Regions from separate parts of the Homo sapiens genome. Here regions 1, 3 and 4 are each linked to region 2. Evidence: fine-mapped expression QTL. A gene starts in region 2. Each other region holds a variant in brackets. All regions are shown on one strand. Distances are between the middles of the regions.

Region 1 (6,297 bases), 64 kb before region 2:
TATACAAGCGTGGTGTCCCCTGGGCCAGGCCTGAGCCCTGCCCTAAGAAGCACATGGTCTAGTGAAGACGAGGGCCTGTGACCATCATCCTCTTCATTATTTCATGTTACTGTCCTATTAGCCAAAGCCACAATTTAGTGCATGTTGCGTATAGTGTGCTTCCTGTCACTGTCTGCTCAGTATATGACAGTGATTTGAGGGGCATTTTTCTATAGCATGTTACCTACATCATCTCATTTAATGCCCTCAGCAACCACTGTATGCAGCTAGCATTAGTCTGTTTTACAGAGTTGTAAACTGAGGTTCTGAGAGGTTGGGACAGTTGCCCTTGTCTACAGCTGGTCAAAGGCAGAGTCTGGTTTTTAACCCTGAAGGAGGACTCACTCCAAAGCATGTCCCAATCATTATGTGAAACATTGACTCATCTTATTTTACCCTCACAAGAAGCTGGAGGCAGGAAGTATACTAGTCAGTATCTTACCCATCAGGAAGCTGAGGCTCAGCAAGGTTAAAAAAAAAAACCCCAAGGGGCTGAGGGATAGGGTTGGCACTGGGCCCCAGGGGCTTCTGTCCCTAGAGCCCATGGCCTCCACTGCCTGCCTGCCCACACAAAGACCATGTGCAATGTGATCAGAAGCTGAGAGGACCAGGCCAGAGGGCTGTGGGAGTTCAGAGGTGGACGGACTTTTCAGGCTGGTGGGTAAGGGAGACTGCCTGGAGGAGGTGGCTTGGCATTGGTGGGACGGGCTTTGGAGGATGAGGATGCAGCAGGGGAGATGACACTAAGGGAAAGGGTACCTCTGGGGGAGAGGGCAGAGTGTGCAGAGGTGCAGGTGAGGGAAGGACCAGGGTGGGGTTGGGGGTCTGAAGGGTTGGACCCCACCCTGTCGGTCCAAGGCCATCAGTGGGTTTGAACAAGGGAGTGGTGTGATCAAGGACTGAATGACCCATCTTGTGTCCCCTTGGCTACCTTTTCTTCCCCACACCCCCTTGGGGCTTTTGTGAGAAGAGGGCTTGAAGTGGGCAGGGTGGGAAGGATGTTGGGGGAGCCCCAGGGGCACATGGATCGGGATCTCTACTCCTGCCAGCACTCAGCATGAGAAGGCTGCTCTGAGGGCAGCCCCGGTCAATACCTCCGGATCTAGGTCCAGCTCTGACACTGTTTTGCCATGTAACCTCAGCTGACTCGCTGTCCTCTCTGGGCCTTAGTTTCCCCTCTTATACCATGGGTCTGGGTGTTCTCTAACAGCCCCTCCTCCTCTGACATGCCAAGAGCCCACTGGTGGTCTAGTTTAAGCACCAGAAACTTGGACTTCAGTGAATCTGGGTCCAAATCCTGCCTCTGCCAAGCTCTGGCTATGGGATGATGAGAAAGTTGGTGTGTCTGAGTCTCTTCTCCATTTGTAAAATGGGATCATTAACAGCCTGTTGTGAGGGATTCCGTACCACAACGCACATAGAGGACTGAGCGGGGTGCTGGACGAGACAGTCTCTGTGATGGGAGCTGCACACTCTTGTCCCAGGAGGAAGTTCGTTGGGGAACCAGAGTTAGCTCATGCCTCTTGGGATGGTGGAAGGAGGGGGAGGTCTGAGGTCGGGCATCATCTCCTTGACTACACACCCAAAGCGGTTGTTTGGCCCAGCCCACCCACCTCCAGGGACAGGACCTTACTCACTCTCGGGGCCACCTGTTCCTTCTCTGAGCAGCTCCAATGTTTGCAAAGTTCTTCCTTACATGGAACTGAAAACTGCCTCGCAGTGCCCACAGAGCTGCCAGGACAGTCATGCAGAGATTCCAGAGAAGAGCCTAGGGCCCCCTGCGGCCCTTTCTGCCTTGGGCTGGCCAGCCCCCTTGGCTGTGGTTTAGGAACTCTGTATCCCCTCTCCACGGGACCATTTTTGGAACATGTCACCTCCACACTTCCTGTCCAGGAAATTCAGCTGCCCCTGGAGCCCATGCAAGGCTGCGAGAAGACTTGCAGCTACCCTCCTCCCCTACACCCATTCACAGACCCTTTAGCTCCAGGCCGAGGTGTCCACCCATGGGAGCGGAGGGGGCAGGATGGTCATGCCCGTGCTAAGTGCCTGCCCTCCCATCCTCCTCTGCCTTGCCCCATGAGGTTCGGAGCCTTGCCCCTTCACTGGGGACTCAGCCCAGCCTCTCCTCATTGCCCAGGCCTGGGGAAAGAAGTGGCCTGTCTGTGGGGAGTGTTTGTTCTGCCTCAGGGCTGAATCATCACCTTTCTGTCCCCCAGAGTGACCACAAGGGGGGCCGTGGGGGAAGAGAAAAGGGCAGGAGTCAGCAGGCTCCCCTGGAGGAGGAGGCGCACAGGGAAATGGCTGAGGCAGCAGGGAAGGGAGGGTCCAGGGAGGCTGCTGGAAAGACTACGATTCTGGGGGCTGGAACTGAGCTCTGAGGAGCAACAGGAGGGTCCCCAAAGATTCCACTGGGAATTGTTCAGATCTCCACCTTCCTGGGATGGAGAACATCCACTCACCCAGAACCAGCAGGCCTAGATGGGGAGGGGACCGGGACTTTGTCTCCATGCCCCCTTTGGTGGGGAGGATGGGAGGAAGGGAAGAAGTCAGGGGGTGGGCCTGGGGCTTAGGCCCATTGCAAGGAATGAATGGGGTGATGTGCTTCAAGCATCTAGCCCAGCGCCCCACTCCCAGGAAGAGCTCAGGAAGAACCCGCTGCCATCATGACAATTACGTCCACCCTTCTCAGGGAGCCTCGCCCATCCCCACCTCTTGATCTCTCACTCATAGTTCTTTGGAAGAGAGGCTGCCTCTGGGTAGACGCCCATGAGCCCTTTCCAGGGATGGCACAGGTGCCCTGGGAGGTTTACATGCCCAGCAGGGGCAGGGGAGGGTTCCTGAGGCAGGCAGAAGGCAGCTTGGTCCGCTTCCAGAAATTAGGAGCCTAGGATTCAGAAATCTGAGAATCCAGCCAAACCTCCATCCTCCTTGATCCCCTCCCTTTCAACAGTGCCCCCTGCCCAGCTGGGGGCAGGGAGGGGCTGACTCAGCCCAGCTGCAGAGGGACAGAGGAACAAGAAGTGGTAAGAAAAAACAGTCTTAGCCACAGAGGCTCCTAGAGATGGAAGTGGCCAGGAGAGGCTGAAGAATCCCCTCCTTGCCTTGTTGCTGTCTTTTGGGCTGGGAAGGCACCCACGGGCAGGATTTGGATCCTCAGAGGCTTGGGAAGTTCTTCTCCCTGGGTCCCGTTTCAGACTCTCTCCCAAGCTATAACGCAGAGGCTCTGAAGTTCACCTGCAGTCCGCCCTTCC[G/A]AATCAGAGCCTGGAAGTTAGTTCCTTCTCATTTCTAATTGCAGTCTTTTCTCTCTAACTACCAGCTAGAAGTTCTTCCTGATGGTTAGCTGGAAGCTTTCTCCCTGTCTCTCTCTTTAAAAATGTCCACATTTTATTTTTGATTCAGGGGATAGACGTACAGGTTTGTTGCATGCGTATGTTTCGTGATGCTGAGCTTTGGAATATGGATCCCATCACCTGCTACTGAGCATAGCTCCCATAGTTTTTCAACCCTCGCCCGCTTCCACCCTCCCTGCTCTAGTAGCCCCCAGTGTCTGTTGGTGCCATCTTTATGCCCATGCACACTCAATATTTAGCTCCCACTTATAAGTGAGAACATGCGGTATGTAGGTTTTCTGTTTCGGTGTTAATTTGCTTAGGATAATGGCCTTCAGCTGCACCACGTTGCTGCAAAGGACATGACTGGAATCTTCTCTCTCAACCAGGACTTGCAGCTAAAGGCCAGCCTCCTCCCTAGCACCGGTCCACACTTCCTTTAAGTTTCTAGCTCGGGTGCCCAGGGAAGGAGCCCAGCTGCAGGCACAGCCAAGCTTGTCCCATCCCCAAGGCCTGGCCGGAAAGAGTTGCTCTGCTGACCCAGGGCCTCAGTGTCCTCCACCGCCCCAGCCCAGCTTCCACTTTCCCCCTCAACTTGGTCTTCCATCAGCATTTCTTGTGGGCAACCCTTAGCATGGTACTCCCCCTCAGCAGCTGACCCCTGGGCAAGAAACAGGGGCAGCCATTCCTCCTCCCCACATCCCAGGGCTTGCCTCCCCTGGCTGGGTGGTAACAGCATGGAGAGCCTAAGGAAGGAAATCAGGTCTTTCCAAAGGTGCTGGTCCTCCAGAATCTATCTAGTGGGCAGCGTCTCTCTTTCTCTCTCAAAAAGGTAAAGTCAAGGCTGGGTGCGATGGCTCACGCCTATAATCCCAGCACTTTGAGAGGCCAAGGCAGAAGGATTGCTTGAGCCCAGGAGTTTGAGCCTAGTGAGCTATGATCGTGCCACTGCACTCCGGCATGAGTGAAGGAGCAAGACTCTGTCTCAAAAAAAAAAAGTCAGATGGCGACTCACCTGTGTCAAACTCTCAGGGTCTCTCACTGCCCGGCCAGGCATGGTAGCTCATGCCTGTAATCCCAGCACTTTGAGAGACCGAGGCAGGCAAACTGCTTGAGCTCACGAGTTCAAGACCAGCCTAGGCTGCGACAAAGCCCCGTCTCTACAAAAATTAGCCAGGTGTGGTGCCACATGCTTGTAGTCCCGGCTGCTTGGGAGACTGAGGTGGGAGGATTGCTTGAACCTCGGGGGTCGAGGCTGTAGTGAGCCAAGACTGCCCCCACTGCATGCCAGTCTGGGGGACAGAGATCCTGTCTTGGAAAAAAAAAAATCCCAAAAGGGAACCCACTCACCTTATCATAGCCCTCAAGGCCTTCCTGTTTCTGGAATCTGCCCCCCACTTCCCTCAAGCCATGATGGCTGCCTTCCTATAGCTCAAACTTGCCAGGATCATTCCCATGTCAAGCATACAGCATTTCCATGCACTGTTCCTGGAAAATTCTTCCTCTGATGGTCACATGGTGGGCTCTTTAGGGGCCTTCCCTGACTTATCTTACTTTATTTTCTTCATAGCACCACTTGAGAATCTCCTAGATACATGTTTATTTGCGTTTAATGCCTCTCTCAGCCACTAGAATGCAAACTCCATGGAGGGGCAGGGACTTTGTCCTGTTCAACTCTGAATCAGCGGTGCCTGACACAAATAGATGTTCAAGAAAGTATGTGGATGGGCTACTATTATTCAGCCTTAAAAAGGAAGGGAATTCTGACCTGTGCTGCAGCATGAATGAACCTTGAAGACATTATGCTGGGTGAAATAAGGCAATCTCAATAGACACATGCTGTGTGAGTCCACTGAGGTGCAGTGCCTAGAGCAGTGCAATTCACAGAGACAGCAGAATCATGGTTGCCAGGGGCTGGAGGAGGGAAAGGGGAGTTGCTTTTTAACAGGAACAGAATTTCAGTTTTGCAAGATGAAAAGAGCTCTGGAAACTGGTTGCACAAGGTAGAATGTAATTTACTTAATACTACTGAACCATACACTTAAAAATGGTTGAAATGGTAAATTTCATGTATGTTTTATCACAATTAAAATATATATATATATTTGGATGGGAGGTTGGGTGGGTGGATGGATGGGTAGATGGATGGACAGATGAACGGATGGATAAGATCTCAAGTTCCACCCTCCCTCCTGGCTCAGGAATTACCAGATTATCAGAGATATCAGGGCCCTCAGAGGTTGTCTTGTCCAAGGTCTTCAATACACAAATAGTGAAACAGGCTTGGAGAAGGGAAGGTCACACAACAAGGCAGAGTCAAGCAGGAACATGCTCTCAGTGCTATGTTCATGAGACGACCTCTCTCAGCCCAGAGCAGGCCTTGCCCTGCCTTCTCCCACTGGGCGCCTTGGGACTGCCCACACCCCTGCTCTTGGGGGTCAGAAACAAGGTCCAGGAACTGCCTGCCAGCCCCGACTGCCACGTGCTCCCTTCCTCTTCTGCAGAAGCCCAAGTACCAGGTCCGCTGGAAGATCATCGAGAGCTATGAGGGCAACAGTTATACTTTCATCGACCCCACGCAGCTGCCTTACAACGAGAAGTGGGAGTTCCCCCGGAACAACCTGCAGTTTGGTGAGATGGCAGCTCATCACTCCACAGCTTCCTATCACAGGGCCTGTGGGGGTTGCAGGGAGCCCATGGGCCCTTGGACAGAGGCCCTTTGGTGCCCAGGGACTTAAGGGACCTGTGTGCGTGGCAGGTAAGACCCTCGGAGCTGGAGCCTTTGGGAAGGTGGTGGAGGCCACGGCCTTTGGTCTGGGCAAGGAGGATGCTGTCCTGAAGGTGGCTGTGAAGATGCTGAAGTGTGAGTGAGGGGAGGGGATGAGGGAAGGGATGGGGGGTGGTAGATGCTGGGGGTGGGCTGGCCCTG
Region 2 (7,919 bases):
CCATTCCTCCTATGTTTCATCAACTTAAGCAAATCCCTTCATTGATTCACTCAAACATGTAGTAAGGGCCTGTATGTAAAAGATTTCTTTATACTCTGCCAGCTTGTGCAATTTTGGTCAGGTCTTTTAGCTGCTTTTTGTTCAGCTTTCTCTCTCATGTATAAAAAAAGACATGTCTCAACTACCTTCCCACAGATTTATAGTGATAAGACTCAAAGGATACAATAGACACAACTCTATTTAAAAATAATTGGATGGGCGCAGTGACTCACGCCTATAATCTCAGCACTTTGGGAGGCTGAGATGGGAGGGTTGCTTGAGGCCAGGAGTTTGAGGCCAGCCAGCTTGGTCAACATAGTGAGACCCCATCTCTATTAAAAAAATAAAAATCTTTTTTAATTAAAAAAAAAAAAAGAAAATAGTCAAGTGCTATGCAAATGAAAAGGGTTTGTTTTTGGGTTTTTTGTTTTTGTTTTTTGAGACAGGGTCTCACTCTGTCACTAGAGAACAGTGGCACACTCTGGGCTCACTACAGTCTTGACCTCCTGGGCTCAGCAATCCTTCCACCTCAGCCTCCTGAGTAGCTGGGACTACAGGTGATGTCATCACGCCTGGCTAATTTTTTGGAGAGATAGGGTTTTGCCATGTTGGCCAGGCTGGTCTCAAAATCCTGGACTCGGGCGATCTGCCCACCTTGGCCTCTCAAACTGTTGGTATTACAGGCATGAGTGGGATTACACTGTGCCCTGCTGGGTTCATTCCTAAAGTCAGGTAATTGGCAGAAAAAAAAATGGAAGAGTTCATTAAGTTTTTTTTTTAATTTTATATAATTTAAAAAATAATAATAGAGATGAAATCTCGCTATGTTGTCCAGGCTGGTCTTGAACTCCTGGGCTCAAGCGATCCTCTTACCTCAGCCTCCCAAAGTGCTGTAATTACAAGCGTGAGCCACCACATCTAGCCTCTGTTAAAGACTATTATCTGTGTCTGAGATGCTTAACAACCTTCCCAAGGCCACCAAGCCCAAGCAGGGACTTGAGAGATAGATTTTTAACTCAAAAATCCAACTCCCTGGGCCTTCTTTCATTATGCTACACTGCTATCCATCTCTACTGGCAACCCTCCAAACCAGCACTGTTCAATAAACTCTGATGATGGAAATGTTCTACATCTGTGCTGTCAAATATAGTAGCCACCAGCCACATATGGCTATCGAGCACTTGAAATATGGCTAGTGTGACTGAAGAATTGAATTAGTTTTATTTTTAAATTTATTTATTTTTAAGACAAGGTCTCACTCTGTCCCCTGGGCTGCAGTGCAGTGATGAGATCCTGTCTCACTGCAGTCTCCACCTCCCAGGCTCAAGTGATCTTCCCACCTTGGCCTCCCAAGTAGCTGGGACTACACATGTGCACCACCAAGTCTGGCAAATTTTTAAATTGTTTGTAGAGATGAGATCTCATTATATTATCCAAGCTGGTCTCAAACTCCTAGGCTCAAGCAATCCTCCTGCCTTGGCCTCCCAAAGTGCTGGGATTACAGGCATGAGCCACCACCACACCTGGCCAATTGTAATTAACTGAAATAGCAACATATGCTAGGAGCTAGAGACAGCACAGATCTAAACAGTCATCTGACCAACCAACATCAGCTCTCTGGTGCTGGGCTAAAAAACAGAGAATCTACTAACAGCTTTTATGTCTAGGAAAAGAGGCATAAAAAACTTAATAACCAGTTCAAGAAGAGTTAGTTTTTTTTGTAGCCAAGTTCTAAATTGGACTTTTACCACAAGTCTCAATCCTTGGAGGGAGAAAGGCTCACAGAAACCACTTGAATTTTACAAGAGGAAATAACATAGTTGCCCCTGAAAATCTGTCAGGAGGAAATTTAGAATTCTGGGAAGAGGCAGTTGTGGTGGTAAATATGGGACTGATACGTGCAGTACAAAGCCCACACACCTCTCATTTAGACCTCACTCCACAAATAAGGTATAATGAGCACTGCATGTGGAGTCAAGAGACCTAAACTCTAACCTTATGATCTCAGAGAAGTCTATTCCACATCCTAAATTTCAACTGTTTCTACTGTGAGAAAAGGATGAACCCAGTGGCTCCTAGTCTTTTGGAGGCAAGAATTCTTTTGACAATGTTGCGAAAGCTTAAAAAAACAAACAACTACAACAACAAAAAACCTCTCCTAGAAATTGCAGACACACTGTATTTCACCTATAATTTTCAGGATATACCCCAGGTAAAGCACACATTATTCCTTAGGTTCTTCCTAGTTCTCTGTCATCTCTAAATGATTCCTCTTCCTATTAAAAACAAAAACTAAACTAACAAAGAAAAACAAAACAAAAACCTACATTCTAACTGCCATAGTGCAACCCAGGAAGAGAACACAGTCTACAACTTGGCTGGGTAAGCAATAGGCCAGTAAAGGATAAGGGAAGCAGTAGTTCAAATCAAGGCTACGTGGGGACTGCGCTTTTTTGCCCTGAATTGACTTCTGGGCGGCTGAAAGCCTTGTGGAGAAGGGCAGTAACTGCAGGAGAGCATCTGTAATGAATGGCATATAGGGTACTAAGCACCCTGCGCAAAACGGGTTAGGAAACACTCATTACAGCCACCTTGGGCTGAGGGCAGGAAGACAACACCCTACGGTTTTGTTTGTTTTATTACCCTGTTCTAAGCCTGAGTACAAGTTTGTTATCAGACTCGAGGCAGCAGTATAGCAATGCAAAAAAAGGCAGGACAATTTAAGGTTAAAAACGAAGGGCTCTAGAGGACAGAAAATCCGGGTTCTAGTACAGACTACACCAGTCGCACCAGCACGGGGACCTCTGACCTTAAGCAATCTACTTACCCTAAGTCTCCGTTATTTCATCTGTAAAACAGAGTTAAGGTCAATACCTGAAATATGCGAGACACTTTCTCTGTCCCATCAGATCCTCCTTGGAATCTCACGAGATTGCCTTTGAGGGCTCAGCCATGGGCCACAGTTTGACTCTGGGCTAGCTCCTTTCCCTCATTCTGGGTCATGAATGAAGCAAGAGCCAAACCAGACAAAGTCTTGGTCAAGCTAAGACGTCTGGGACATCCGAATGTCCCATACGGATTGCGGAAGGAGGACACTAAGGCTCAGTGGCCCTACTTTGTGGAAGACTCAGTAGAGGCTCAGAGAGCCGCAGCATCCAACTCGAGGTCGCCCAGCGGCTCGGCGCGGCCCTCGAAGGCGGGACTTACCCGGAGGAGCGTGCAAGCTGCGCCGCTCACATTCCCGGAGGCGCTTGGCCCGGCGGCTGGACGAGGGGGATGGCTGGCGCACTCGCGCTCCCCGCTGTCGGCGAGAGGCGGCTCCAGTCGTGACAGCAGCAACAAGGAAGTGGAGGCGAGGGCTCGCGCGCGCATCCCGGGGGCTGAAGGAGCCCCGGCCCCGCGGCCCCGCCCGGCGACACACGGCGCGGAGTCGCGACAGCCCCTCTCGCTTCCCCTCCTCGGAGTCGCGATATGGGGTCCTGAAGGGCAAGAATAGGAGCACAGGTTCGCTCCGCAGGCTCCTCACCGATGCCTGCCGAGGGCCCCGGGGGTCAAGCCCCGGGGAGCTCGAGGAAGACGGCAGGGACACGGTCGTCACCGAGGCACCGGTTTGGCGGCTGCACCGGCAGTAGCGGCACACCACGGATCGCCAGGGAGACCCGTCCCGGCGGCCCTCGCGGCGCACCGGAAGCGGTCGGCAGCGCGTGACTGCATGCGACCCCTGGCGCAAGCGCAACAGCCCAGCCCTAGCTTGGGAGCGGACCCACACGAACTGCTCAAAGGCTTGGAGCGGGTCTAGTAAGGCGAACGGACTGCTTCCGGCCAGAGGTCCCGGGCGGAGGAGGAAGCTGTGGCTGCCGGCGGTGGGACGCCCCGGCCGCTCAGCCCCCGGGCACTGCTGTGGGGCGTTCAGGTAACAGGGGCGGGGCTGTGCTGAGCGTGAGGGATCTAGGCCCCGCCTCACCTTTCAGAGCCACGTCGGGCGCTGGGAAGCCTACAATACCACCCTCTCCTCAGCACGACGTTCAAGGCCTGACCTCAGCCTGTCTCAGTCTTTCCCTCTCATTCAGGATCGGGTTCATACGTAGTGCCGCATCAAGTAGCGCCTTCATCACTCCAGTGATCTGCCCTCAATCCGTCTCTCCCACTGGCCCACGAATAGTGATGGTAGTGAGTTCCTGGAGTGACTCAAGCTGAGCTGAATGACCGTATGGAGAGCTTCCGTAAATCAAATAGGGATTGGATTGGATTGTCCTTTCTCTCCAGTGTCACAAGTTGTCCACATTTGTACAAGTTCCCGCACAACCCTCACTGTATTCCAGTCTGCCTACTTCTCTGCATCTACCGCCATCACCAACCTTCTAGCCACCATCATCTCCTGCCTGGACTGATGTAGTTCTCCCCACATCCCCTCTACAATCCATTCTCCACGAAGCAGTCAGATTGATCATTTTGCACTGTAAGTCTGATCAAGTCACTCCCTGCTTAAAACCCTCCAGTGTCTCATTCACTTAAAATAAAATTCAGACGTCTTAGCTTGACCAAGACTTGTCTGATTTGGCTCTTGCTTCATTCTCTTTCTATGTCTCCTCTCAATATTAGTAGTTCCCAGAACCAGCTATATAGCACTCTGTAGTGTTTGGAGTGCTAGCTTTGTTGTGAGCCTCCTGGGTTTGAATCCCAGCCCTGCCACAAGTAAGCAATATTAAGCAAGTAAAGTGCTTAACAAATGAGGTTTACGCAGTAGATCCTCCCACCTCAGTAAATGGCACCATCATCTGCTGGATTCCTCAGTGCTCAAACCAGAAACCTGGGCGTTATCCTTGACTCCTCCTTCACCTCACATCCGGTCCAGCACAGGGCTTGCAAAAACATAGCCCCAGACTGACTACTACTCACCATCTCTCTATTACTACTCTAATCCAAGCCACCATTATCTCATGTGGACTCCTGCTTTTTTCTCTGATACCCTTCCATTCTTTACACAGCAGTCATCTCTCCTTCCTTAAAATCCTTCAATAGCTTCCTATTGCACTCAAATTAACATCCAAACTGTATATGGCCTACTGGTTTAGCCTGCTTTTATCTTCAGATTTAAGGCCATCTCTTAGGAAAATCAACTTTACCCATTAGGTTCTCTACCCTGCAACCAAAAGACTATATTGTAAATCTGATCATGTCATTCCAGAAAAACAAAACCAAAAAACCGTCAAAAGCCTCTTAATGCCCCCAAAGCAAGCTAGAAACCTGACTAGGACTTCCTGTGATTTGGTCCTTGCTTTCTTCTCCAAAGAATTTTTTGTTCCTGACCAGGACATTCTATTTCCTATATAGTATTTCATTGCCTTTCATGTTAAATATTTCCTTTCATCTCATGAGTTCCTATTTGTTTATTCTTTAAGGCCCACCATATTATTCCCTCTTTGAAGTGCACTGCCCATCCATGCTCCATTCCAGTTGATTATCTGCACATTTATGTTCCAGTAGTACTCCGTAACCTCTGATTTAGTTTTCACATGCTCTAGTGTTTGTCTTCCCTGGTAGGCTCCTCAAAGGTGGGCACTATGCTCCATTCATCTCTGTATGGCTGGCATCAAGCATACTGCTTAATACATAGTACATGTCATGAATGGATGGATACATGTATGGAGGTGATAGTAAAAATCTACCCTTGAGAAGGGACAGTCATAGCATAAAGTCACAGCAGGTTCTCTTGTCCTTTAAGGATTCTCATGATAAAATGCCTACGAAGGCAATTACCCAAAACTGCTACTGCTGGATCATGTTTTGTTGGACCAGCGTAGGGCAGGGGGACTGTTTGTTTTAAATTCTGAATACTTCTAGACAGGATACACCACACCATTCTCCAAATACTTCAATCCCTGTTTCACTCACTTACGCCACCATCCTGGCCCCTAAAGGCATTTGAGTTTGAAGCACCTATCTAGGGTCCAAGACTTAAATCTGGAAGGACCTTAGGCATCATCTGGGCTTGTGGTTTGCAACCATGGGACTTTTCAAAAATATGTATTAAAAAAAAAAGGAAAAAAAGAAAATAGGCCCAGAGAGGGACTGTACTACAACCTGCCCATCACTTCTGCCATAATCTGTCACCTAATTGGTCTCTTTGCCTCTTTGATCCATTTTCCACAGAACAGCCAAAGTGATCCTTTTAAAATGCCTGAAAACATCCGTGGATTTCTGTTGCACTCAAAATACCAATTCTTTACCATGGCATCTTTGTTTGTTTGTTTGTTTGAGATGGAGGCTCGCTCTGTCGCCAGGCTGGAGTGCAGTGGTGTGATCTTGGCCCACTGCAACCTCCGCCTCCTGGGTTCAAGCGATTCTTGTGCCTCTGCCTCCCGAGTAGCTGGGATTACAGGCATGCGCCACCACACCCAGTTATTTATTTATTTATTTTTTTTTGAGACGGAGTCTTGCTCTGTCACTCAGACTGGAGTGCAGTGGCGCGATCTCAGCTCACTGCAAGCTCCGCCTCCCGGGTTCACACCATTCTCCTGCCTCAGCCTCCCGAGTAGCTGGGACTACAGGCGCCCGCCACCACGCCCGGCTAATTTTTTTTGTATTTTTAGTAGAGACAGGGTTTCACCATGTTGGCCAGGATGGTCTCGATATCCTGACCTCGTGATCCACACGCGTCGGCCTCCCAAAGTGCTGGGATTACAGGCGTAAGCCACCCCATCCAGCCTACCATGGCATCTTTGAATGGTCTGGCCACCCACCTTTGTCATATACTTGGATTCATGCAAATATTTCAGTTCCCTGAATACCTCAAGCTATTTTCGGTGTGTGTGTTTTTTTTGTTTTTTGTTGTTGTTGTTGTTTTTGAGACAGAGTCTTGCTCTTGTTGCCCAGGCTAGAACGCAAATGTACGATCTCAGCTCACTGCAACCTCCGCCTCCTGGGTTCAAGTGATTCTCCTGCCTTAGCATCCCAAGTAGCTGGGATTACAGGCACCCGCCACCACGCCCGGCTAATTTTTGTATTTTTAGTAGAATCGGAGTTTCGCCATGTTGGCCAGGCTGGTCTGGCCGCCTTGGCCTCCCAAAGTGCTGGGATTACAGTCATGAGCCACAGCGCCCGGCCTATTTTTGCTTTTGAGGTTTTGCTGATGCTATGTCTTTTGCTGGACAGCCCTTTCCCCATATTCTTGGAGATCTCAGCTTCAGTGCCATCTTAGTGAGGACATCCCTGACCACCCTTTGTATAATAAGTAGATCTTCCTCTTTTATTCTTTGTCATAGTCTTTATTTCCTTTATAGCACATATCACCCTCTGTAATTATCTGTTTACTTTTTATATTTCCCACCACATTTTATATTTCATAAGAACAGGGACCTTGACTCTTTTGTTCATTACTCTACCCTTAAAGCTTGGCACCTGTAAATATAAAATGAATGTATGGCTACCAGAAACATCTTCCCACAGTAAAAATCTTTCCAGGCCAGATGGTGGTAGAGCTTTGAAGATCTCACTTTGGTGGAATTTCAAGCAGGACCATGGCCTGGCAGAAATAGTAATCTGAGTTAAGAAATCTAAGCTGCATGAACCCGGGTAGGCCCCTTCCCAGGGCCCCAGTTTCTGTGTCCATCAAAGAAGCTGGAGAATAACTCGGAATGTATACAGTGCAATGCTATTTGCCAAGCTCTTTCACTGCCTGTTATTTCAATCTGTTCTCATGGTAGGCAGAGCAAACATTGTTATTCCCATTTTTATGGAGGTTCAGAATGTTTAAGTAAGCTAGATAAGATCACTTCTGTTTCAAACATTCTGAGTCTTTACAAGTAGCCTCTACAAAAAGTCAGTAGCATGAATCCTATCTTTTCTTTACTTTGACTGTAAATTGTCCTTTCCTAATA
Region 3 (7,897 bases), 33 kb before region 2:
CTATAATTTCTTATATTCTGCACAGATGAATAAACATTTCTGGAAGATTGATCACACTGTTAAATAAGTGTTTATCTCATGGCAGTAGCAATGCTCTTGATTTTTTGTTTCCTCTTTTTATTTGTCTGCATTTTCCAGCCCTTCCACAATGAAGATCTGTTATTTTAAAGATCCCAGTTGAGAGCTTCAACACTTGAGAGGTAAAAGTCATCTTGTGGGACTAAGACATTTAGGAAGAAGACTCCCCCTTCCTCAGAAGCCCCATCTGAGAAGGCCCAGTCCTCAAAGGGCCAGAGGTCTCATCCATAGAGGCAGTTCCCAAGCCTGCTTTGGGATGCTCTGAGGGAAGAGAAGGTTGGCACCCACCTGTGTAGATGTCTATGAAGCTGTGCAGGGCCAGACAATGGGGGTTCAGACACATCTTCACCTGGGCAGTCACTGTCTGCAGACGGCTGGCTGTCAGCAGCCAGCACTCCTGGGGCCCAGCCAGGGAGCTAGTACCAGAAACATCACCAACAAAAAAAAAGAAGGGAAAGAGACTTCTTTATGGAGTTCCAGGGCTCAGTGATCAATGGCAAATTCTCATTTGCTGGAGCTTAGGATTTTCTAGGTAGGTATTTCCACTTTGTTGGAATCTGTGGAATCATCCCTACAATTAATGTAACTCTGAATTTATTACATAATTTAACCAATCCCAATGAACTCCCAAACCTAAACATTGTGTGGGGCAGTCCAGATGTAAACTAAATCCTAATCTGGTGATAACTTTCAGGCATTTCAACAGAAATGATAATTACCAATTATTACTTTACTTTCAGCAATCAGAAAGTTAAAGGAAGCCTAAAAACGGCAGAGAATAACATCTTCACAGTTATAGTTTTAATGTTTTCTGAAGAAAAGAGCAGTATGAGCCAAATGGGATGGGGTAGCTAGGGGCAGAGTTAAGGGGTGCTTACTTTTGTCCCCCTTTGAATAATGGGCTGCTACAGAGAAGGCACTGCGTGGACGGAGACTCATAATAATTCGACCAAGAGGTTTGCTCGATGGTGACTGTCTCCTCACTCACGTTGGACAAGATAAGTCGAGAGCTGTTGAGTTCATGAATCAAGGCGAAGACCTCAGCCAGCTCTGACTCATTCTCAGGAATCTGCAGGACTTTGCGCAGCAGCTGCAGTGTGGACTGGCGCTGGATCTCCCTCTGGGCTGTGCTCAGGGGCTCTGTGGCATTCAGTACATCTGGGAGTGGTGAGCTCACCTCCTGGGAAGAGAGTGGATTGATCACCAAGCACTCAGAGCAGAAAGAGCCAGCTTCAGGCTAAAATAATAAAAGTCTGGGAGCAGCAGACAGATGGGGCCCATGACTGATAGGTGGCAAACCTAGGTTCCTAACCAGCTCAGCTAATAACTCACTGTGTGACTAAAGGCTGGTTATTTTTCTCTGTGGGGCTCAGTTTCTCTACAGGTTGAGCACCCCAATCCAAAATGCTCTGAAATCTGAAATTTTTTGACCACTGAGACAACATTCAAGGGATATGCTCATTAGACATCTCAGATTTTGAATCACTGGATTAGGGATGCTCAAGCAGTATGTATTCTGCAAATATTGCAAATTATGAAATAATCCAAAACACTTCTGGTATCAAGCACTTCAGATACAGGATAGTCAACCTGTATCAGTAAATGAGAGGATTATATACAACTCTTGGTAATGGATTCAACACTTAGCTCTCATTCATCAGGTATGGGGTTTAGAGGATAACAGACCCAGGTTTCAGTTCTGGATATGCCACTTAACAGCTGTGTATGTGGGACCCAAGGCAATTTACTTAATCTTTCTGAGTCTCAATTTCCTCATCTGTGAAATGGGGCATAAAAATAGTAATCTCTTAGAGCCATTATACAGATTAAGTAAGATATTATAAGTAAAGCACTTAGCACAATGCCTATGGTGCAATGAAGGCTCTATGAATGATAGTTTTGATACATAAACAAGTATCTGCACTGCTTAAAGTTATCTGTCTTTAATTCTCGGTGGCTTCTGGGTACAAGGTAATTTTGTATACCAGTCAGAGGCTTCCAGGAACAATGTTCTGAAATACTCATTAAAAATAGGTCTTTCTCAAGCAGGTCTCTCTTCAATGGAGCTTCTCCCTGATCCTTTTTGCCAAGGCAGCATAAATCACTCCCCGCTTTGTGTTCTCTGAGTGCACCCCTTGACTGCAGAATTCATCATCTGACAGCTGCTAAACCACCACCCTCCCCGCTTCAGTAAGGGTAGGATTCTGCTTATTTACTGATTCCCAACCAGCATGATGCCTGAGACACACATAAGATACTGATTCATATGTGATGGACATATTATACATGGCTCTGTAGAAGTTAAATGCTTAATGCTATAGTTTGGATGTTTACCGTCTCCAAATCTCATGTTGAAATGTGATCCCCAACGTTGGAGGCAGGTCCTAAAGGGAGGTACTTGGGTCAGGGGGGCAGATCCCTCATGAGTAGATTATCGTGGGGCAGGAGCAAGGGAGGTGGTGAATGAGTTTCGCTTCCTTTTTCTGTATGTGATCTCTATGCATGCTGGCTCCCCTTGCCTTCCACCATGAGTGGAGGCAGTCTGAGGCCCTCACCAAAAAAGATGTTGGTACTATGGTTCTTGTACAGACTGCCAAATTATGAGCCACATAAACCTCTTTGCTTTATAAATTGCCTAGCCTCAGGTATTCTTTTATAGCAACACAAAACAGACTAGGACACTTAATAAGGAGCTTTTTATTAACTCCGCATACCTATGACAACTTTCATTTGTAATAGCTTGGTTATCTTTCTCTCCCACTAGACTGTAAGCTCTTCAAGGGAAAGGGCCACGTCCTATTCATCTCTGAAAGCCTGGCCCATAGCAGGCATTCAATATAGGCTGGCTGAGAGAATTAATTAATCAGTGGCTACAGAAGAGCTGACTAACACTAGAATGAGCTGCCCCGAGAGGCTGTGTGTTCTCAGTCATGACTATGAAACCACAGCTGGAAGACCACTTGGCAGGAATACTGTCCCGTGACTCTCGCCAGAGATGAAGGATAGAAAGGACTAAAGACCATTCCATCTCAGAGATGTGAAAACATCTGGCTACCAGGGGGCTCCAAATGACAACACACAAGAAGATCCCTGTGGTTCTGACCAGTGCTTTATTTTCTGGAAAGCAGTAATTACACTGTATTTCTCCAAACTTTAGGAGATTGGAAAGTGATGGAAGGTCTGCAGATGAGGGTCCTGGGGGTGGGCAGTTCTCAGTTAACCAAATACAGATGGATATAAGTTTAAGAGTGGGATTTGAAATTGGCAAGAGGTCCCTAGATAATTTCCTATGTCACCTGAGAAGTTAAGTTCCTTCATCATCCTAGATCTAGAGAGTAACACCCACTTCCACTGCAAACCGCGCAAATAGCTAAAATGAACTGGAAGGAGAAAGGAATGCTCAGAGCTTCTACCTACACAGAACTCAATTCTATCTCCTAATTACAGATAGACACACTTTGTATATGTAAGCTCCAGGGTTAGAAGGTGCAGGAAAAACAGACATACCTGCCCTAGAAGAGATTGTGGTCTCATAGGGAGTTAAGAAAAGCAGTCAATATGGGGTGTGATCAATGCTATGGCAAGAAGAGCACTTTGAAACCCACTGAAAATCCGGGAAGAAAGCTTACTTCCAGCAGCAGGCATCCAGTGGAGCAAGAGAATCTGATGAAAGCTACGGACCCATTTTGCATGCAATTTCAGGGATTTATAAACTCCTTAAAACTCAATTATCAGTCTTCTCTAAGGCTCCTGTCTCTTAAGAGTAAAATGCCCAGATCTAATCTACCTTGCCCACCTTACTTTACCAATGGAGAAACTAAAGCTCGGGAGAGGGAAGCTTCCAACTCAGGGTCACTCCCAGCCCCAGTGTTTTTCCCACCAAGCCATTAGTGCCCACATACTTTGGTTCCACTTTCCTTTCTCACAAGGACAATAACCTCAGAACATCACCTCAAGCACGGAAACAGACTCTGGAGACCAGGGTGAGATTCATCATCAAAAAGGCCTCTCTCCATATACAAATAAACCTCTAAGCTTGAAGCAGTTCTCCCCACCTCTGTAGTCCTGTCTACTCCCAAACTCTCATCCCATAAATTCCCCTCTTGAAATAACTTTCCTCTAGGCCTCTCCCCGGCTCAAGGACATTCAGTAGGACCCCACTGACTAAAGAACAAACTGACAAGACCTTCCA[T/C]GACATGGTTCCAAGATGCTTTTCACGTCTTATTTTCCGTAACACCCCTTCTCCCACCCCATGCCCCCACGCCATCTCCTCCAGCCAAATGGAACACTCTTCATGTTCACTCACACTTATCCTTATCACTCACACTTATCCTTATCCATACTCACACTTCATGTTCACTCACCAGACTACAGTCTAGTGGGAGAGACTTAAGTATGGCATGCCTTCCCCTTCCATTCAAAACCTGCCTGCCTTTCAAGGTCCAGCCTTGATCTGGAGTGACCAGGCTCCATCTCAGGTCCTGACCTGTTCTGTGTGCCATCCCCTCTTTCCCCAAGGCAGACCAGTGACATTTCTCTTCTCATCCTTATTTTAGTCCTTCCATTTGCTGCCTCAAGTGCCACCATTTTCTGTTCACTTTAAAAAACTCATATGGAAATTCTGGGGACCTCTGAAAATGCCCATTTTTCCTGGTAATAGTAATAATAATAATAGCAGCCCTAAGGAGCCAAGTGGAATGTATTTTACTACCCAAGTAGTTTGGCCCAACTTCAGAGAGGAGGGCTGCCTAGACTGCTAGAAATAAAGCTTTGATTAACTAAAAGCTTTCCAAGGAGCCTGAGAAAGCAGCGGTGGTCTAATCTGCAAAGTCTCAGGTTGGCATTCTCTATTTACCGAAACAGTAAATCAACTTACAGGTCTTGTATCAGGCCTCAGCGGTAAGAGGATGCAACCCTTTCGTCCCTCTCCTTTCACTCCTACTTAAGGCCTGTGCTACATCATTCTCTGCAGTGAGTGAACTCTTGGTTCTCAGAGATCAAGATACCTAGTCAACCCCTTCACCCTGGCAATGGGGACAAGGAGGCTCAGAGAAAAGGCGGCACTTGCTCAGGTTCAGAACCCACCAACTGGTTCAGTTTGGATGCTCTAACTACCACCATGTACTTTAAAAATCTTCTTATTTCTACTAAGACAGGTTCACTAACAGAGCCCAGAACAGGCCAGGGGATGTGTTTGGGGGAAGGAACTCACGATAGCCTTGGTGGTTTTCTCAGTCCGGTCTTTGGCAAGGTTAACACCACAGCTGGGACAAATTCGAGGTTTGTGCCTGTTGGTGTAGACATAGCTACAAGAGGGATTCTTGCACTTTCCCCGGCCTCTTGATGTAGCCAGGCCCAAATCCTAAAAAAGTAAGACCAGTGTTCAATTCTACAAAAATTAAGTTAAACCTGGGCAGAACCCAGAACCAGAATGAGCAGCTGCCAGTAAATCAGAGAAGAGAGTGGCAACTGCAAACCAGATTCAGCCTAACTTCAAGAGCCTTAACCTTTTCTGCAGTTAACTCTTTTACTTTTAATACAGGCTGTAAATTTTTGGCAAATCCAGTCCAGTCCTTCCCTATCTGTGAAACAGGAGAGTTGACTCTCAATGGTCAGAAACTCAAATGCCTTCAGGGTCCAGGCAGTTGGTGGAGTAAAGCAGGTCTGTTTAAACAAAGAGTGCTTGAGACTGGTGAACTAAAGAGTTCAAGCCCTGCCTGAAGACAAACTGTGACTTACAGACTATTAAAGCTCAAAGCTCTAGCATCTAAGCTCCTATGACAAGTTACTATCTAATCAGCAGAAGAGAGGGTCTACTCAGGGGTAGTTCCCCCTAAATGGTAAATCTAGTTGCCTCCTGTAGCCAAAGGGAGTGGTGAGTGAAGGCATGGAAAAGGTAGTGATTATATTTAGGTCACAAGAGAAAGAAACCTGAGCAGATCTCCAGGATAAGAGACACATTCTCCTTATGGATCAGGTCAGGCCAGACATTAACCCATCACATTGTGCTGTCTTGTTTGCTACTGAATCCCCAGTACAGATCCTAGTACAGAATATGTGCTCAATAAATATTTTTTGAAGGAATGAATGACCCTTTCTGAACCTGTCTGCCATTATGAGGCAAGACTTTTTAAAAATCTAGCTGTTCTCTCAAAATCTGTTCATCTTAATCAAATCAGCTAGAGAAACTGCCAAAAGACATCTTGCTGGTTGATACTTTAAGCATCAACAGAATTAGAGAATGTTGAGAGTGACAGATGCCCCAAAGATGTCTAAACCAATGCAGCACTTTACAGATAGTGAAACTGAGGACCACAGAAGGAAAGAATCTTGCCCAGTGGCATATGGCATGCTAGCAGCAGAGCCAGAACTCCTTTTGGACCAGGTCTCTCAGCTGTCTAGCATTTATTTCCCTGCTCTATGCTGCCTGCCCTACAAAAGGGTGATCCCAATGTCACACATTTGTCCATTAGGACGTTAATATGTGTTATGTTAAAAATAAAGGGAAAACCCTGTGGGAAACACTAGGCTAAACAAAATAAGCTGCTTTACTAAAGTACTTCTCTATTTTACTTTAAGATACTCGTGTTGAACTGGACTCTGTTTTAGGGAGAAAAAGGCAACGTTGCCTAAATGTAACTGTGGAACACCCTTTCTAAGCTAAAAGGTTCCAAGACAGCTAAATGTTAAATCTGGACTAGATTCTCATCTCTGGCAACTCTCAATAAAAATACACTAATCTCAGCTGTCCTACACTTTATAAATCTCACCTGGAAAGAGACCAAAACAACCCAGCAGATTCATCCAGTAGCTATTATTTGCATCAGGGATGGGATCTTCATCATTAACAATCTATACCTGACCCTGTTCTCCCTCCCAGCTACCACCACCCTCTCCCCCAGCCTCCTACTGACCTTCAACCACAAAATCAAAACAACCTCCATGTCAACCCACCACCACCTAGCTGCATACTTACCAATGTGACAGTGCAGCTGTACTTATATGGAGGAAACATATCGGGCTTGACCTCCACAACTTTCACCTGAGAAGTCCTGTTGGATGGGCCACTTGGTAGCTGTGGATCAGAACAAATTATTTAGTGCTTTTGAACCTTAGCCAAACTCCTGAGCTCCCATGTCCTGAAACGACTTGAGGGAATGCTTTCCCGGGGAATTTGTAGAGCTATTCTCCAAATGAGCCCTCTGGACTGCCAGTTGGCAGTCACAAGCCCACCAAAGGCTGAGTGTCATGTTCAAGTCCAGGCCTTGCCACATGCTTCTGTGCAGTTTCTAATACCATGTATTAGAAACACCATGAATCAGATTTACAACTACTACTGAGTTATAAAAGCACATAATAGCTTTTATACATATAAATACATGGTTGAACAACTTTGCATAGAAAGATGTCTGAAAGACTATTCACTAAAATGTCACAGGGTAAGAGGACAATCATGGTTGTTTCTCCCTCTTTACCACTATCTACAAAATTTGCTTTTTTTTTGGTAGCGATGTGGGTCTCACTATGTTGCCCAGGCTGGTCTTGAACTGCTGGACTCAAGCAATGCTCCCACCTCAGCCTCCCAAAGTGCTGGGATTACAGGCAAGAGCCACCATGCCTGGCCTCAAATGTTTTATAAGGAATGTATATTTTACTTATATAGCTAAAAAAAAGAAAGAAAAGATAAAGCATACAAAATTAAAATTATTCTATAATAATGAATTTAAGTTGATTTTCTGAATATCTCATGTACCTCTTTACTGGTTTAAGACTAGTAAAAGAGCTTGTGGCTTTTAACAAATACCCAATGTCACCAATC
Region 4 (7,919 bases), 43 kb before region 2:
ATCCTAGCACTTTAGGAGGCCGAGGCAGGTGGATTATCTGAGGTCAGAAGTTCAAGACCAGCCTGACCAATATGGTGAAACCCCATCTCTTCTAAAAATACAAAAAATTAGCCAGGTGTGGTGGTGTGGTGGCGTGCGCCTATAGTCTCAGCAACTTGGGAGGCTGAGACAGGAGAACTGCTTGAACCCGGAAGGCAGAGTTGCAGTGAGCCCAGATCACAACACTGCACTCCAGCCTGGGCAACAGAGCAGGACTCCGTCTCAAAAAAAAAAAAGATGCCTGGGCCCTTAAAATATTAGCAGGAATATGAGGTGGACCTCAGTATCTTTTTATTTTTATTTATTTATTTATTTTGAGACGGAGTCTCGCTCTGTCGCCCAGGCTGGAGTGCAGTGGCGCGATCTCGGCTCACTGCAATCTCCGCCTCCCGGGTTCACGCCATTCTCCTGCCTCAGCCTCCTGAGTAGCTGGGACTACAGGCGCCCGCCACCATGCCCGGCTAATTTTTTGTGTTTTTAGTAGAGATGGTGTTTCACCGTGTTAGCCAGGATGGTCTCGATCTCCTGACCTCGTGATCCGCCCGCCTGGGCCTCCCAAAGTGCTGGGATTACAGGCGTGAGCCACCGTGCCCAGCCTCAATATCTAATATTAGGAAGCACTGTTTGAGAACCAGTGGATCACAACATATTAAGTGATTACAATATCAATTGAGTGGGTCATATCCAAAAATTCAAAAATGAAATAAGATAGAAAATAAAGAAAAATACTGTTTTGGGAATGTTGTTTCAGTTATACACACTTGCATATGTACGAATATCATTCTGCGTCATGACACAAAATGTATTTCTCACTATGGGTTACAGTTAAAAAAGGCGGCTATCACTCTAACCGCATTAGCTCACTTTATCTTCAGTGATCTAGGAAGTGGGTAGCTATTATCGCACCCTCTTTGTAAAAGAAGCAACAGTGGCTTAGGGCAATGATGGGACCTGACAGAGGGTCACACAGCTAAGTGGCAAAGCTGGGAATCAAACTCAAGCTGTTAGAAACCTATCCTCTTACCCGCTAGTCCAGGGTTTCTCAATGTCTAATCCATAAAACTAGCTGCAAAACCCTCTGGGAGGCCTGTTTTGAAGGCAGATTCCTTGGCCTGCCCCTACACTTGCTCAATGAAAACCTTTGGGGATGGAGCCTTATCAGCATTTTTTATAGGAGTTCTGCTACTCAGTGTGTGTATCCCAGAAGGCTGACAATGAGCTGTGCGCCCCTGCTATGTAAGATGGAGGACAGCTCTTCAAAACTCTGCACCACAACTTTAAACTCTAGGGGATTTTGACACGGGCTGTTATTATCTTTCTGAAAGGAGTCCTGCAGCGGGGCCTGGCCCTCTCGCTACCACTGTGCTATCTTGCCATGGACAATGTCCCAGACTCTTGACTGAGCCCTTTTTTGACCCCAGTCAGCCACCAGGTGGCCTTACCAGGTACTGGCTGCACATCCAGGTTTTTGTCTTTCTCAGTGTTGACGACCACAGCTCCTCTCATGAGTGGTGGGAAGAAGGGGGCAATAACAGACGCATCAAATTTGGTGATAGGGATGCTGGCAGGAAATGCCACCTGCTCAATCACCTCTGTCTCCATCGTGGCCCAAAAGTCCTCCACATTTACCTCATTAGAGCCCAGGAATTCAGGCCAGGTGAACTAGAAGGTCAGGATAAAGAAGGTCAAACTGTGGGAGTCACAGAACATCAGCAACACAACAGCCTACCCCGTCATTATACACACAGGGAAGCCAAGGCTTGGTGAAGGGAAGTCAGACAGCCAGGCACTGCCACAGGGCCTTGAATTTGACAGCTCTGTACCCACCTGCCTTTTGGTCACATTTCTTTCCCTCACACCATAGTACTCTCCCAGACATGAATAGTTCCTAAATCCCTTCTGTTTCTATACCTTTGTTTATGTCATTTTCCCTGTCTTACAAAGAAAGTGGAGCTACCATTTGAGTACCTGTTATGTGCCAGACACTTTGTAATGAACTACTAAAAAACAAGTCTGGGGATGGCTGAGGTGAGTATTCAAGCACTCGAAGAGACAGAACAATCACGTCAACACAGGTCTAGTTCCAAAGCCCAAACCCTTACTGCTGATACCAGGCTGGCAAGAACGAGCAGAATCCTATTGAGTAAAATTCCAGCCATTTTCCAAGGCCCTGTGGATTGCCGACATCCTCCCACACATCATCAGCACACAGCTATCTCCTCTACCCAGGGCAGCATTTACTTATCTCTTATAGACATCTATTAATAGCGCTTGTGCTACTCAATTTTTCTTCTTGCAATGCCCTCTTATATGGCTCTCAAAACGTGACCCGGATCCTAATACCTCAATCACAGTTGTATAGCTTACTTATTAGAAATGTAAAAACCTTGGCCACATCTTGAGCTGTATGAACTAAACTCCTAATTTTGCATTTAAAAAAGTTTCCTCAGAGGAATGGTTCTCAAAGGGTGGTCCTGGACAAGCAGCAAGAGTATCATCTGACAACTTGTTAGAAATGCAAATTCCTGGCCCCACTCCAGATCTCCTGAGTCAGAAATCCTGTGGGTGGGACCCAGCAAGCCCTCCACTGTAAAAAGTTGTGAGAACCACTGCCCTATGTAGTTCTTATACCCACTAAAGTCCAAGAACCACTGCTCCCCATAAAGGCTCCTCTCCTCACCTTATTCCTCTTTGTTTGCCACCTCACAGGGGTGCTTAGTGCATGCTCTGTGTAAATGGCACACCTAGGGGAATGAGGCCAGCTGAGTCTATCCTCTCCACAAGGAGCAAGGGAACAGGAAATGCCAACCCAGTACACAAACTAACCACAGGGTCCTCCTTTATACAACTCCGAGAGAGGGGCTGACAAGTCTCTTCATGGATAACAGCATATTTAAGTTTTGTTCAATAACTTCCTGTTTTAGTTCACAGACTTCAGGATACTCTCTCCCCACACATACCACACTACTCTCCACACACAAAACAAAGAAGTACCTCTATGAAAGAAGTACCTGGTACCACTGAAGGAAAGAGACAAGCAAACTGAGAGTGAAGGGAATGCTACTCCATTCTGGGACAGAGGAGCCTTGATTGGGACAGGACGGGTGCCAGGCAGGACTAGGAGATGGCACCTTTGCAGGGAGGTGGGCCTCTGTCTATTCTTGGAAACCATAAACTTGCTGTGGCCAGATATGATCAGAAGAAACAGAACTCAGAGTCGTAGGAGGTACTGGTGAGAATGGCAGTGCTTAGGGTGCAGACTCCACAGTCAGCGGCTGAGAAAGAGCAAGGTCAATCTCAGCCCCACCCTTCTCTGGCTGGGTGAGCTTGGGCAAGGCCCTTGGGCTTCAGTGCCTATGTCTATAAAAACCTCATGGGGTTGTAGGGAAAATTAAGTCATATAGTAAAGCACTTAGCACAGATTAAGAACTTGGCATAGTAATAAAATGCTCAATAAATCTTAGCTGCATTATTATTAACACTACTACTAGGCAAGCGGATTTGAATCAATCTGGAAACAGCCTCTAGATGAGATAACACAAACAAAATGGTTTAGTTGCCTGGTTTCTTACTTGGGAAGTAAAAGACAGGACTATGCATTCAACCCTTAATATGTCTAGTGGTCCTGCCAGAATACACCAAAGCTGTTCTCTACAGGTTCTGCACCTGCCTGATCAGTGAACACATGAGATGCAAGTCCAGTACCTGAAAGTCAGCTCATGTCCCAGGCTCTTGTTTACTATGGTAGAGTTCAGAGATGGAAACCTCACACTCCTATGCAACTACTGGCATATTCAAGGCGCAGTCCCTGCCTGTGAGTGTAGACCAGACCTCATAGCATGATCACAGGGAAAAGTAATCTATGGGATTTTTTTTTAAACCCTAAAGAAGGTTAAGGAAGATTTCCTACTGTTCTGTTTGCTAAAAGTTTTATCATAAATATGGGTGTAGAATCATACTGGACAACTTTTTTTTCCCCATACATTTAATGAAATTATCATATAGGGTTTCCCCTTTAATCGGTTAAGTAGTGAATTACATTAACATATTTCCTACTGCTGAAACAACCTTGCTTTCCTGTGTTTAACTTTGTCATGATGCATTACTGTGTTAGATCTGATTTGCTATTATTTTATTCAGACTTTCATCTATATTCATGAGTA[T/C]ATTCAGCCCCAATTTCTTCTCTTACATCAAATGTCTGATTTGGTTTCCAAAGTTATACAACCTTATATGATGAGTTGGGGAAACATGCCCACTTTTGTTACTTGCCTATGTTTGGAATAATATTTCTTGGATATTTGTTCTAATTAATCTATGAAGCCATCTGAGTTTGATGTTATTATTGTGTGAAAATTTTTCAGTTCAGAACCTAAGTTAGCTCAGGTCACTCTTTTCCTCCAACCCCTTCAGTGGCTCTCCATTTCACTCTGTGTAAGTCCTTAAAATAGCCCATGTTACCCTACATAGCGTCGGCCTCCTGCACTGTCTGGACCTCATACACCCCACCACTCCCTCCCTCCCTCCCACACTCTGAGCTGCACCACTGGTCTCCTTGCTGGTCCTCAATCATACCCAGCAAGCCTTCCTCAGACCCTGTTCGAGCTGTTCCCTCTGCCTGGAATATTCCTCCACAAAGCCACATGGGTTTCAGATCTCTACTCAAATGCTACTGTATCAGAGGGGCCTTCCCCCCTCACTGCCCTCTATAAAATACAAATGCCCTTTCCCATGACACTGTTCTCTCTCTCTTACCCAGCTTTACTGTGCTTCACAGCACTCACTACTCCTGGACAGATATTTGTTTCCTGTGTCCTCCAAACCAGAAAGTGAGCTCCATGAGGACAGAAACTTTGTTTAACTACTATCTCCCAGGTGTCTAAAACATGCATTTAGTTTATGTTCAATATATTTACTATATATATTTTTTGATACTTATTCACTGGATAAATACATTTTTCAAGTGAGTAACTGAATAAACAAATGCCTCCATTTCCATCTGGCATTCCCTAAATGAAATCTTGGGCTGTGGGAGGAAAAACTCACTTGCCTCACCTAGACAGGACTGGAGCTATCCACCCCCTGGGGATATCATATAGGAAGGGAGGTGCCAAAATGAGAAAATTCCGCAGGTCCCTCACGGTGGCTAAGAGGCACTTACCTCCACGCTCTTCAGTGCTAGCACATTCTCTTCACTCCTCTGAGCCATTTCCACTTTGGGGGCCACACCACAGATGCCACAGATCATGTCATTGTAGTCTCGGACAGTGAGGCACTCAAAGGCCCAATAGCCATTGCACAGCAGCTCCTGCAGCTGGCTCAGCTCCTCCGAGGTCAGAGTCTTCTCTGAAAGAAGAGCAAGAACACTGAGAAGGGCACAGAAAAAGACACTGAAGCCACTAGGGATGAGCCAGTGGGTAGTAAGTAGAGCAATTCTGCCAGACTGATTCACCTTAAAGAACACTCCAGTGTACTACCTACCCTGAGGGTCAGGGATCTGGCCTGCAAGTGCTCAGGTGGCAACCCAAAGAGCAATTCCCACTGGAGTGATAGCTGCCTTGTACTAAGTACTAGATGCTGTGCTGAAAGCTTTGGATATGTTATGTCATTAATCTCACCTCAATTTAATTCTTTATGAACGAGGAGCTATTATCCTCATTTTATAACTGGAGAAACAGAGGCACAAGAATAACTTGCTCAAAATCACACTGCAACAGTGGCAGAGCCAAGACTGAAACACAGGCCCATGTAACTCTAGTAGGCTCTACTCCATCTGTTCTCACAGCAGGTAAGGTAGAGGGGGATTGGAGCCTATAGGAATGGGATGGGAAAAGCACAAATAGGAGTAAAGAGGGCATGGAGGAAAAATATTCTAGACAGAAAGGATGGTCCTCACTCTTAGGTCTTGGCATGAGCCTTGGGACTGGAAGCAGATATCCAGGAGCTGTGTGGTCAGAATGAGTCTAACATGCAATGGGGCCAAGTCTCCCTATGACCAAAGAAGGTACTTCTACAAGTCACTCGTAATCTCTTGCTAAGGGTCCCTGGATGCACAAAAAGATTCATGCTTTCCAAAATTAGTTTGGCATTTGTAAAATTCAAAAGGAAGAGTGTATTAGGAAGTCAAGAATGTCTCCTTTTCAAAATAATCAGACTCTTCTTCAAAATGAGTCTTTTAACCAAATGCCATCACTGAAAATTCCGAGGGAGCTTAGGACTAACCTTGGGAAAGGGAAGAAAACAACTTTTACCTGTCTGCTCCTGCACCGACTTCAGAACAACATTGATGGACACTCTGGGGTCCTCTCCGAGCTTGATCTGATTTCTGATTGCAAAAAGCAAGTCCAGGCTTACCAGCAGCTTGTTCCCCACATTAAAGAGACCTGCAGGTTAAGAAGAGGCAACAAGGAAATTAATGTATCATACACAATGGCAAAAAATAGAATACACACCAGCTGGGTGCGGTGGCACGTGCCTGTAGTTGCAGGCACTTGGGAGGATGAGGCAGGAGGATCGCTTGAGCCCAGGAGTTGTCGACTAGCTTGGGTAACACAGTGAGAGACTCCATCTCAAAAAAACAAAACAGGCCAGGTATGGCCTGTAATCTCATGCCTGTAGTCTCAGCACTTTGGGAGACCTGTAGTCTCCCAAGGTGGGAGGATCGCTTGAGCCCAGGAGTTCAAGACCAGCCTGGACAACATAGCAAAGCCCCATCTCTATTTTATTCAAGTTATATATCTTGAAAAAGGCAAAACAAAAACCCCACAACTAAATGCCCATCAATAGGGAAAGGGTTAATTAATTTATGGTGAATTCATAAAATAGAAAGCATTAAAAAGAATAAAGTATTCCAACATGGAATCCATTTTTTTTTAAAAAGAAGTAGATCTAACTGTTCTGACGCAAAGTTGCCTATAATACATCATTAAACAAACAAACAAAAAATAATGAAATAGTACATATAGTAGATCTTTTTCCCCCAATAAAAAAAAGGAACACTTTCTTCCCACCCAGCTCAGTCCTCAGGACCAAAGGTATCACTCTTCCTTTACACCTCACACAACTTCACCTGGGGAAAGGCCAGGAGCATCCTTTAGCTCATGAATGTGTAAGGGGTACAACAAAGGCTATGAAATCACTCCAACACCAAATCCTGAAATGAATGAATCTGAGGAATTTAAGCGCAGTCAATTTAAGACAAATAAAAGTGGGTGATTTTATATGTGCACAAAACATAATGCACTAATCTGCACAAAAGCAAATTTTGGAGTATGTGTTCCCAGTGAAGAAGGGTAAGGAGAAGTGCAAAGGCTGAAACCACAAGGGAGAGCAAAGCTCTGGTCCCATACAAATATTTTTTAAAAAGCAAAAGTCATGACGCCCCCAGAAATCACCAGGTACAAATGTAAAAGACAACTGATATCACATTCTGACAGGCTAGAGGTAAAACTGAATAAATAGAGCGATAAACTGGGAGAAAACTGTCAACAAAAAAGACCAAAAGAAGAATGAAAACACAAAAGAAATTTACTATAGAAAAAAACCCATAAAGGATCATAAAAAGGACATATACTCTACCTACTACAAAGAAATACAACAAATTACCTGATTATACACAAGTTTTTACCTATAAAATTGATAAACTTAAAAAAATTATAATATTTACAAAAACAAAGTCAACAGACAAACTTAATTATACTTCTATACTAGCAATGAATAGCTAGAAATTGAACCATGTCATTTAGCACTGAAAAAAAAAAGTAAAATACTTATATGTAAGTCTACCAAAATATGGGCAGGACCTATATGCTGAAACTAGAAAAACTGACAACCTATTAAAATGGAGAGAAAGACTATGGACTGGAAGATTCAACATTGTTAGG

Evidence for each region. PIP is the estimated chance that this variant, and not a neighbour inherited with it, causes the effect.
Region 1: its variant is the best candidate, but not a certain one, in a credible set for the expression of HMGXB3 in T cells (TOPMed, PIP 0.87).
Region 3: its variant is the best candidate, but not a certain one, in a credible set for the expression of HMGXB3 in whole blood (TOPMed, PIP 0.79).
Region 4: its variant is the best candidate, but not a certain one, in a credible set for the expression of HMGXB3 in whole blood (TOPMed, PIP 0.85).

The regions. Positions count from the first base shown.
Region 1 is chr5:150,061,425-150,067,721 of GRCh38, reverse strand. It overlaps CSF1R (colony stimulating factor 1 receptor), which reads left to right. Exons shown (of 21, transcript NM_001288705.3): 11 at 5,873-5,999; 12 at 6,127-6,231. Among named protein-coding and RNA genes, the nearest start is that of CSF1R, 22 kb to the left of the region's middle. RefSeq lists an enhancer at 712-761 and a silencer at 2,712-2,887. The variant G/A (reference allele first, on the strand shown) is at 3,291.
Region 2 is chr5:149,996,507-150,004,425 of GRCh38, reverse strand. It overlaps HMGXB3 (HMG-box containing 3), which reads right to left and starts at 3,687. Exons shown (of 20, transcript NM_014983.3): 1 at 3,247-3,687. It overlaps TIGD6 (tigger transposable element derived 6), which reads left to right and starts at 3,772. Exons shown (of 2, transcript NM_030953.4): 1 at 3,772-3,952. RefSeq lists enhancers at 2,793-2,872, 3,760-4,548 and a silencer at 3,953-4,032.
Region 3 is chr5:150,029,997-150,037,893 of GRCh38, reverse strand. It overlaps HMGXB3 (HMG-box containing 3), which reads right to left. Exons shown (of 20, transcript NM_014983.3): 10 at 7,055-7,153; 11 at 5,291-5,440; 12 at 957-1,258; 13 at 367-494. Among named protein-coding and RNA genes, the nearest start is that of HMGXB3, 33 kb to the right of the region's middle. RefSeq lists enhancers at 2,298-2,507, 2,628-2,677. The variant T/C (reference allele first, on the strand shown) is at 4,271.
Region 4 is chr5:150,039,248-150,047,166 of GRCh38, reverse strand. It overlaps HMGXB3 (HMG-box containing 3), which reads right to left. Exons shown (of 20, transcript NM_014983.3): 14 at 6,288-6,419; 15 at 5,198-5,382; 16 at 1,482-1,701. Among named protein-coding and RNA genes, the nearest start is that of HMGXB3, 42 kb to the right of the region's middle. The variant T/C (reference allele first, on the strand shown) is at 4,203.